Linked DNA regions of Homo sapiens: region 1 is linked to region 2. The links come from fine-mapping of genetic effects on gene expression. A gene starts in region 2. The other region holds a variant in brackets. All regions are shown on one strand. Distances are from middle to middle.

The links.
Region 1: its variant is fine-mapped to the expression of AMZ2 in lung (GTEx, PIP 0.93).

Annotation. Positions count from the first base shown.
Region 1 is chr17:68,021,053-68,026,430 of GRCh38, reverse strand. No RefSeq gene overlaps it. Among named protein-coding and RNA genes, the nearest start is that of TRR-CCG2-1, 3.8 kb to the right of the region's middle. The variant G/A (reference allele first, on the strand shown) is at 2,584.
Region 2 is chr17:68,244,912-68,250,289 of GRCh38, reverse strand. It overlaps AMZ2 (archaelysin family metallopeptidase 2), which reads right to left and starts at 2,247. Exons shown (of 7, transcript NM_016627.5): 1 at 1,585-2,247; 2 at 1-102. The coding sequence starts at 102. RefSeq lists silencers at 762-811, 2,121-2,420 and enhancers at 2,635-3,180, 3,181-3,727.

The sequences.
Region 1 (5,378 bases), 220 kb after region 2:
ATCAGGAGTTTGAGACCAGGCTGGTCAACATGGTGGCCCCATTTCTACTAAAGATACAAAAATTTAGCTGGGCGTAGTGGCACGCGACTGTAATCCCAGCTACTCGGGAGGCTGGGGGAGGAGAATCGCTTGAACCTGGAAGGCGCAGGTTGCACTGAGCCGAGATCATGCCACTGTACGCCAGCCTGGGCGACAGGGCAAGACTCCGTCTCAAAAAAAAAAGAAAGTGAATGGATGGTGGTGCTGGCAGCAGAGTGACACATTGGAAAGTAAATATGGCCCAATCCAGATAAAATGTCTCTTCCTCCTGATCTATTATGGAAAGGGTCCAATGTTATTGTCATGATCACCAGGTAATTGAATGGTCCCTTCAGGGTGTGAAGCCAACATCAGGGCTGGTTGGGCCCCCGGCAGAAATAGTAGCCAGACCAGACTCAGTAGTAGGAAGTGAATGATACTGAGCGTATGCATAGCCTCTGTCTCTGCTGCCTTGGCCATGTGGTTCATGATCCCATTAAGCAAGCACTAGCCTGGCAGGGGAAGGAGGATGATGGACATCTACAGAGCAGGCCATCATGGCCACCTGAATATTAATAGCCTATTCCACAGTGGAGGCCTTTGGGTGAACATCCATATAACTCAAATCCACACCTTCTAAGTTCATTCCAAAAGATCCATACATCTACCCCTTCTCCAAACCACCTTTGTTGTCAATCCTATCTTCCTCTCACAAATTCCTGAGTGTATTGTTTATGACTCTTTTGGTTGCAAGAGGCAGAAGACCCAATCCTAAGTTGGCTTATGAGTAAAGGAATTTGCCACCTCAAATAAGAAGGCTGGGTGCCGTGGCTCATGCATGTAATCCCTGCACTTTGGTAGGTTGAGGTAGGAGGATCACTTGAAGCCAGGGGTTTGTGTAACCAACAGAGGGAGACCCCCTTTTTCTACAAAAAAAAAAAAAAATTATCCAGGTGTGGTGGTGTGCACCTGTAGTATCAGGTACTTGGGATGCTGTGGCAGGACAATTGCTTGAACCCAGGAGTTTGGGGCTGCAGTGAGCTATGATTGAGCCACTGCACTCCAGCCTGGGTGACTGAGCAAGACCCTGTCTCTAAAAAAAATAATAATAATAACAAAAGTCCAGACCGGGCGTGGGGGTCGTGCCTGTCATCCCAGCGCTTTGGGAGGCCAAAGCCGGTGGATCACCTGAGGTCAGGAGTTCGAGACCAGCCTGGCCAACTCCAGTAGAGATGGCAAAACTCTGTCTCTACTAAAAATACAAAAATTAGCTAGCCATGATGTGATTCAGGAGAATCACTTGAACTTGGGAAGCAGAAGTTGCAGTGAGCTGAGATTGAGCCACTGCACTCCTGCCTGGGTAATAGAGCAAGACTGTCTCAAAAAAAAAAAAAAGAAAGAAAGAAAAGAAAAGAAGGCTGGGCATGGTGGCTCATGCCTAGAATCCCAGCAGTCTGGGAGGCTGAGGTGGGCAGATTGCTTGAGTCCAGGAGTTTGAGACCAGCCTGGGCAACATGGTGAAACCTGGTCTCTACAAAAAATATAAAAATTAGCCAGGCATGGTGGTGCACGCCTGTCATCCCAGCTACTTGGGAGGCTGAGGCGGAAGGATCATTTGAGCCTGGGAGTTGGAAGCTGCAGTAAGACGTGATTGCATCACTGCACTCCAGCCTGGGCAACAGAGTGAGAACCAGTCTCAAAAAAACAAGCAGATCGGGCATGGTGGCTCACACCTGTAATCCCAGCACTTTGGGAGGCCGAGGCAGATAGATCACTTGAGGTCAGGAGTTTGAGTTTGAGACCAGCCTGGCCAAAACAGTGAAACCCCGTCTCTACTGAAAATACAAAATATAGGCCGGGTGCGGTGGCTCACACCTGTAATCCCAGCACTTTGGGAGGCCGAGGTGGGTGGATCACCTGAGGTCAGGAGTTTGAGACCAGCCTGGCCAACGTGGAGAAACCCCATCTCTACTAAAAATACAAAAATTAGCCAGGTGTGGTGGCATGTGCCTGTAATCCCAGCTACTCCAGAGGTTGAGGCAGGAGAATTGCTTGAACCCAGGAGTGGAGGTTGCAGTGAGCCGAGCTCATAGCCACTGCACTCCAGCTTGGGTGACAGAGTGAGACTCCATCTCAAAAAAAAAAAAAAAAAAATTCAGCCAGGCATGGTGGCACACACCTATAGTCCCTGCTACTTGGGAGTCTGAGGCAGGAGACAGAATTGCTTGAACCCAGAAGGTGGAGGTTGCAGTGAGCTGAGATCGTGCCACTTAACTCCAGTCTGGACAACACAGCAAGACTCCATCTCAAAAACAAACTTACAAAGAAACAAACAAGCAAGCAAAAATTGAGCTATCAATCCATGAGAAAAACATGCAGAAACCTTAAATGCATATTGCCAAATGAAGGAAGCCAGTCTGAAAAGGCTACACATTGTATGATTCCAACTACAGTAAATGACATTCTAGAAAAGATAAAACTATGGAGACAAAAAAGATTAGTGGTTGGGGCCACGTGCAGTGGCTCACACCTGTAATACTAGTGCTTTGGGAGACTGAGGCGGGC[G/A]GATCACGAGGTCAGGAGTTCGAGACCAGCCTGGCCAATATGGTAAAACCCCGTCTCTACTAAAAAATACAAAAATTAGCCGGCCATGGTGGCTTGTGCCTGTAGTCCCAGCTACTTGGGAGGCTGAGGCAGGAGAATCGCTTGAACCCGGAAGGCGGAGGTTGCAGTGAGCCGAGATTGTGCCACTGCACTCTAGCAAGGGTGACAGAGCGAGACTCCATTTCAAAAAAAAAGATTAGTGGTTGGAAAGGGTTTCAGGGGAGGAAGGGGAGAATGAATAGGTGGAATAAGGCATTTTAAAGGCAGTGAAACTATTCTGTGTGATACTGTAATTGTGGATATATGACATTATACCTTTGTCAAAAACCATAGAATGCACAATACAAAGAGTGAACCCTGCAAGTATCAACTATGGACTTTACTAATAATGTATATTAAATATTATTATTAATATTAATTATTATATTGTTAATGAAGTTAATTATAATGTATCAGTATTAGTTTATCAATTGTAATGAATATACCATACTAATGCAAGCTGTTAATAACGGGAAATTGGTGAGGGAAAGTGAAGGAATATACAGGTACCCTCTGTACTTTCCACTCAATATTTCTGCAAACCTAAAACTGATAAAAAATAATAAAGTCAATTAATTAAGAAAATATGCTGCAATGTGAAAACTAGAGCATATCACCAAACTTTCTGCATTCTGTTACATTAAAATCCATTAGTCTGGCCGTGCGGTGGTGGCTCATTAGTCTGTACTCCACTTGGATGCATATTTTACCTTTACCCATGCAGGAATATCGAACATTATGCACTGGTCATTTGAAACACGTTACACTAAGAGGTATGCAGATCTTCCAAGTGTTGACACATTGAATTGTACAACATCAAAACATTGCACTCATTAAACAGAAATGTCTTTAAATATTTGAAAGCTATCAAGCTTACAGTGGTGGATACAAAGTTTCAAGCTTTTAAATGTTCCCTTGACGGTTTTTTTGTTTTTTTGTTTTTTGTTTTTTTGAGACGGAGTCTCGCTCTGTCGCCAGGCTGGAGTGCACTGGCGCCATCTAGGCTCATTACAACCCCCGCCTCCCAGGTTCAAGCGGTTCTCCTGCCTCAGCCTCCCGAATAGCTGAGACTACAGGCGCGTGCCACCACGCCCAGCTAATTTTCGTGTTTTTAGTAGAGATGGGGTTTCAACATGTTGGCCAGGATGGTCTTGATCTCTTGACTTCGTGATCTGCCCTCCTCGGCCTCCCAAAGTGCTGGGATTACAGGCCTGAGCCACCGCACCCGGCCTTCCCTTGAAAATGTAGGTTATTTCATTAGCCACAAACAGTGCATATTGTTTTCCTTGAAGCGACATGCTCACTTTGTTCATTTTCTAAAAAATATCTGCAAAATGCCCAACTCTGAATAATCTAGTTTGTCGGTCAGTTGTTCCTTCAATGAAAATTCGGTACGACTGAAAAGCAGCTAGTTCGGAGTGCAACTCCAACATCCCACAAGTGCTTTACTCAAGCAAAAACCATTGTATTTTGGTATGCGTAGAGGTGATTTATTCATACTTCCCATTGTCAAAGAAAATATTAAAAAGCTGTGCACTCAAGCGTTGAAACTTAATACACTTAATTATTCTTACAGCGTCACCAAGGATATGCTTCAGTAAACCTGGCTTTTTCCCTCTGCCAGTGCACGAAGGTAAAGAATATGACTCTTATTAGTTTAGTTCAAATGCCTTAAATTTGCTATTTCACCCGCTATTGCTTCTGCACCATCGGTGCAAATGTCAACGCAATAAATAACCTGTTTTCATGAAAAGCATTTCCTGAATGCCTCAGAGTTCACAGGCCAAGGATAACAAGGATAACACATCACACGCAGACTAAATTAGAAAGATATGCACCAAAATGTTAATACATTTTGTAGGAGTGGTTAACTCCGACTTACAGAATTTCGATTTTCTTTTTTTTTCCCCCTAGACAGAGTCTTGCTCTATCGCCCAGAGTGGAGTGCAGTAGTGCAATCCCGCTTCGCTGCAACCTCTGCCTCCCAGGTTCAAGCGATTCTCCTGCCTCAGCCTCCCCAGTACCTGGGATTACAGGCACGCGCCACCACGGCCCACTAATTTTTGTATTCTTGGTAGAGACGGGGTTTCACCATGTTGGCCGGGCTGGTCTCGAACTCTTGACCTCATAATCCGCCCGCCTCGGCTTCCCAAAGTGCTGGGATTACAGGCGTGAGTCACCGCGCACGGTCCCTTTTTTTTTTTTTTTTTTTTTTGAAAGAGTCTTGCTCTATCACCCAGGCTGCAGTGCAATGGCGAGATCTCGGCTCACTGCAGCCTCCGCCTCCCCGGTTCAAGCGATTCTCCTGCCTCACCCTCCGAAGCAGCTGGGACTACAGGCGCTCGCCACCACGCCCCGGTAATTTTTGCATTTTTAGTAGAGATTAGGGTTCACCTTTTTGGCCAGGCTGGTCTCGAACTTCTGACCTAAAGGGAACCGCCCGTTTGGGCATCTCAAAATGCTGGGATTACAGGCGTGAGCCACCGAGCCCGGCCCAATTTCGATTTTCTTTACCTGGCTTATCTTTTTTTTTTTTTTTTTTTTTGAGACCGTCTTGCTCTGTCGCCCAGGCTGGAGTGCAGTGGCACAATCTCGGTTTACAGCAACCTCCGCCTCCCAGGTTCAAGCGATTCTCCTGCCTCAGTTTCCCTGGTAGCTGGAATTACAGGCGCACGCCACCAAACGCCTGGCTAATTTTTTTGTATTTTTAGTAGAGA
Region 2 (5,378 bases):
TTGTTCCCCAGCATTTAATTTCTCATACTGTGATACAAGCACTGGGTTCTTTGAGATGAGAGCTGTTTTTAGTGTCTGTTCGGAGTGCCGTATTATTTGCATCTAACAAAAAAAAGCAAGTAATCAAATATAAAAATACATATCTACATTGGGGACTTTACCTATCCTCTATATTTCAGCTCTGATTTCTCCCTAGAGTGAAATGACTGATTGCTAATGCTTTAGAGTGGTCACACTTAGAGTGGTTTCCTCATGTCCAATTTCTTGGAGATCTAAGAAATTAAAAAGACAATCATGAAATCCATTCCTCCATCTCATATGGAACCTGCTCCCATTACAAAAACTAGTGGTGGCCAGGTGTGGTGGCTCATGCCTGTAATTTCAGCACTTTGGGATAGGAGGATTGCTTGAGGCCAGGAGTTTGAGAACAGCTCAGGCAACATGGTGAGACCCTGTCTCTACAAAAAATTTAAAAATTCCCTGGGCATAGTTGTGCACATCTGTGGTCCTAGCTACCAGGGAGGCTGAGACAGGAGAATCACTTGAGCCCAGGAGCTTGAGGCTGCAGTGAGCCATGACTGTGCCACTGCACTCCAGCCTGGGCAAGAGTCCAAAACAAAAAAAAAAAACCTCACGGTGACCACAGGAGCAGGACCTCACACCCAACTTCCTTCTTTTGGGGAATAATATTGGCCTGGCACAGTGGCTCACGCTTATAATCCCAGCACTTTGGGAGGCCAAGGCAGAAGGATTACTTGAGCCTAGGAGTCTGAAATCAGCTTCGACATCATGGCAAAACCCCATATCTACAAAAAAATTAGCCGGATGTGGTGATGTGCACTTGTAGTCCCAGCTACTTGGCAGGCTAAGATGGGAGGATCATCTGAGCCCAGGAGGTCGAGGCTGCAGTGGGCCGTGATCGTGCCACTGCAGTCCAGCCTGGGCAATAGAGACTCTGTCTCAAAAAATAATAATATGAATTAACTCATCAGTGCCACATGAAAAATACTCATCGTTTCTAATGTGACTCAAAGATCTTCAACATCAAATAAAAACAAAACTAATGTAAGCCCTATCATTTCTGCAATTTAACTGCAGGCTGAGAAACTACAGCTTAGCCACTGAAGTTTATGGCCTCAAAGTCATGTCACATTAGGGAAGACATCAGATGACTAATCAAAAGCCAGCCTCACAATGACAGGTTTCTTCCATTCACATCGTGTTCCTATATAGAGCTTTCATCCTTCCTCTTGAATGGGTCCGATGTTCCACCACGAGGCTTTTTGAATTAAGGAAAAAGTTGAACATCTCTGTCTGGATCATCTTTGTCATATTTTCTAATTATTTAGATTTTGCCAGTTTAATGATAGACGATTGATGGGAAAACTTAAGCTAATGTCTGTTCTGATTGAACCTATAAATTCTGGGGTTGAAGAGGCTGACTAAAATTCCAGACCAAATGTCTCTGTACTCAAAGCTCTGATATAAGCATAGGCTCATCCTCACTCCTACACAACTGGGCTGAAATCTGACTTCTACAGGACAAAATATAAAACAAGATGTACCTTCCTGTAGTCTACCTACCTTGATTAGGAAGGAAGGCTCCCATGGAAGCTTTTAACTTACAAGGACGGACATGTCTGGGCCTGGCTGGAAGAAAGTTGTGGAGTGTGACTTCATCTTAATATTAAAAAGGCAGTGTGAAAGGTCAGGAGGCCTCCTCTTGCCTCCCAAGCCTAATCTAGGGAAGCTGCGGGAGAAGATGGGCAGGGGGCGCAGAATTCGGTCACTGCAGTGGGCTGGAGGCCTAGGATGCTTTGGTCCCAAAACCAGAACATCACGGGCAAACGGGAAGGAGCTGGCCACCCTGGCTGGTTGCCTATAGCAACTCGCACTGTGGGCTCTGGTCCATGCAGACACAACCCAGTCTCCAGCTGGGAGTGGAGTGGGGGTTCCCCAGGGACTCTCGCTTCGCCTCTTCTTCCCCAGGAGCCTCGGGAAAGGCCTCCCTGGCTCCCTAGAGGCACCGACCCCGCGGACCCCGCGGCTTCCGCCACGTCCGCCCCTCCTACATCCTCATCCCGCTCCACCGACCGCGACCGGCCCCCGCCTCTACGACCCGGCTACCCTGCCTAGGGGCCCCGGCCCAGCTCTGACAGCACCCGCGAACCGCCCTGACCCGACAGGCCTCGATACCACCCACCCGCGGCAGCCCTCACGCGCATGCGCACCGCGTCCCTTCGCACTGCGCCACGCCACGCCCACTGGCGCCACGCCCCTTACGCCACGCGCCGCGCCGCTGCGTCGCGCACGCCCTGTGGGCCCCGCCCAACTCACGACCCACCCATGCCACGCCCCTGAGCGTGCGGCCGCCTGGGCAGGCGCAGAGCTGGAGTTCAGCGGCCGCGACCCGCCTCTTCCAGAATAGAGGGTAGCGAGGGGACTACAAGCCCCAGCTGTCCACCCCCGCAGTCGCCGATTCCTCGCTTGCGCTCGCGGCGGCTCCGCGGCCCGGTTCTCGAGAGCCACAGATGCGCCCGCGTCGCTGGGGTCTCCCGTGTGGGAACGTCCTCGGCAGGCCGCGGGTTTGAGAGGCATCGCCGGCGTGACGAATGCAACCAGCGTGGCCCCAAATGAGTCGGCGGCCGCCGCAGGTTGACGTAGAGCCGCAGCGCTCCCCGGGGCCGTCACCCTCAGCACTTTCCCTTCTTTATTTGTTGGGGGCCGCGGGGGCTGGAACCCAGAAGCGCAAGTGTGGGGCGCGTCCTCGTGGCGTCCCTGGCGCTCCGAGGCCGAAACCCGGATGCTGAGGGGAGGCCGTGAGCTCGGAAAGGCACCGCGGGGCCGGCATTAGGGCTGAGCTAGCTCTGTACCCTCTGGTGGGACTTTCGGTCTCTCTGGGCCTCGCCATTCTCTTTCTTTTTCTTGCTTTTTTTTTTTTTTTTTTTTTTTTGGAGACGGAGTCTTGCTCTGTTGCCCAGGCTGGAGTGCAGTGGGACAGTCTGGGCTCAGTGCAACCTTTGCCTCCTGGGTTCAAGCGATTTTCCCGCCTCAGCCTCCCCAGTAGCTGGAACTACAGGTGCCCGCTATCACGTCCGGCTAATTTTTGTTATTTTTAGTAGAGATGGGGTTTCACCATGTTGGCCAGGCTGGTCTCGAACTCCTGACCTCAAGTGATCCGCCCGCCTTGGCCTCCCAAAGTGCTGGGATTACAGGCGTGGGCCACCGCGCCCGGCTTTTTTTTTTTTAATACGGGTTTTCACCCTGTTACCCAGGCTGGTCTCGAACTCCTGCGCTCAGGTGATCCACCCCCCCGCACCCCGGTCTCCCACAGTGCTGGAATTACAGGCGTGAGCCACGGCGCCCGGCCTGTTATTTTGAAGTCAAGCTATTTTACCATCCTCTGGATTTTCGTCATCCTAATTCTCCTTCCCAGTCTCAAGGAAAGACAGGCACATTTTCTTGATGACTTCAGCATTTGTAACCCCTTGTTGGCTCTCCTTAGAGGACATTAACTCTGAACCTTTCAACTTCGAGGATCTCTTTAGCCCTTCCTTATTTGTTCACTCTCCTGGATCATGAATTCTCCAAATTTGTCCTTTGAACCCAGTGCCCATATCCACCCTCACCTGAACCCATTCTTGAATAAAATGCATTCCTACCATGACTGTTCTCAAAGTTTGAAGTTGAGAATACCGATGCGCCACTCCTGCTTCAATGCTTGAGAAGTCGTGGGCTTTCTTCCATGTGCCTTTTGACTGGGCGCCTATCTCCCGACAGCCTGAGGTGGTGTAGCATAGGGGCGAAGGTGGTCTGTGCTTGAATCCCAAAACCCTCACTAGCGTGGGACCTGTGTCAACTACTTGACCTCTTTTGTAAAACGGAGACAATTACAGCACATCTTTTTTTATTATTATTACTTGACACGAAGTCTCGCTCTGTCATCCAGACTGGAGTGCAGTGGTGCGATCTCGGCTCACTGCAACTTATGCTTCCTGGGTTCAAGCGATTCTCGTGCCTCAGTCTACAGAGTAGCTGGGACTACAGGCACACACCACCACGCCCGGCTAATTTTTTTTTTTTTTTTTTTTTTTGTATTTTTAGTAGAGACAGGGTTTCGTCATGTTAGCCAATTTTTGTATTTTTAGTAGAGACGGGGTTTCACCATGTTGGCCAGGCTGGTCTTGAACTCCTGACCTCAGGTGATCCACCTACTTCGGCCTCCCAAAGTGCAGGGATTACAGGCGTGAGCCACCGCGCCCCACCTACAGCACATCTTAACAGAATTTTAGGGATCAAATGAGTTCCTTTGGATACTGTGCCTGTTTTTGACTGAACAGCTGTCTTCTGACATCCTGAGTGGCTTCTTTAGCTTAGTTGTCACCTCTTCTATAGCCTCATCCTGCCTCATGACAAAACTTTACTTCTGCCTGTTCATTGCCTTGTGTGTACATAATAATACTGCAGTTGTCCTTGTCACAATGATTGTAACCTATTTCTTACATGTCACCCTTACTCAACTGCGAGATGCTTGAGGGTAAAGACTCTCTATACGAGGTGTCTGAAGCATAAAAGGTATTCACTAGATTTTCAGTCAGTTTTTTGGTATTCATTAAAAAGAACTTCATTTTGCGTTTAAACTGTTTAAATTTCTAAATCATGAACTTTGTACTTGCTCACAAATTTTAGGATAGCATTATTTCTGCATGGTCTAATATTTATTTTCTTAAATAACTGACCAGGCATGGTGTCTCATGCCTATGATCCCAGCACTTTGGGAGGCTGAGACAGGAGAAAGGAGAATCACTTGAGCCTAGGACTTCCAGACCAGCCTGGTCAACATAGGGAGACCCCATCTCTAAAAAAAAAGAAAAAAGAAAAAAAAAAAGCCAGGTGTAGTGACACATGCCTGTAGTCTCAGCTACTTGGGAGGCAGAGGTGGGAGGATGGGTTGAGCCTAGGAGATCGAGGCTGCAGTCAGCTGTGATTCACAGCACTTCAGCCTGGGCAACAGAGTGAGACCCTGTTCAAAAAAATAAACAAATAAACACCTTAGTGCTTCGGGGGGGTTAGGTTTTTTTTTTTTTTTACATTAGAAGGAAAAGACACTTTCTCTTACTAAGGTATTTTTGCCTGTTAACTAATATGCAGTTGCAGAATGAACCATAGTCTGTCTGCATTTCAAAGAGCACTACAAGTTCTGATATTTAAAATGAGTGTATATGCCAGTGGCCCAAGGTTGGAGAAGAAAGTTGGTAACAAATTGGAAGGTGGCAGAAAGCAGGAAAGAAATGTAACATATATGGCAGATGAAGGGTTTTAAAATAGCTTTTACAAATCAGCACAGAAAAGATAAACACCATGACATAAAAATGAGC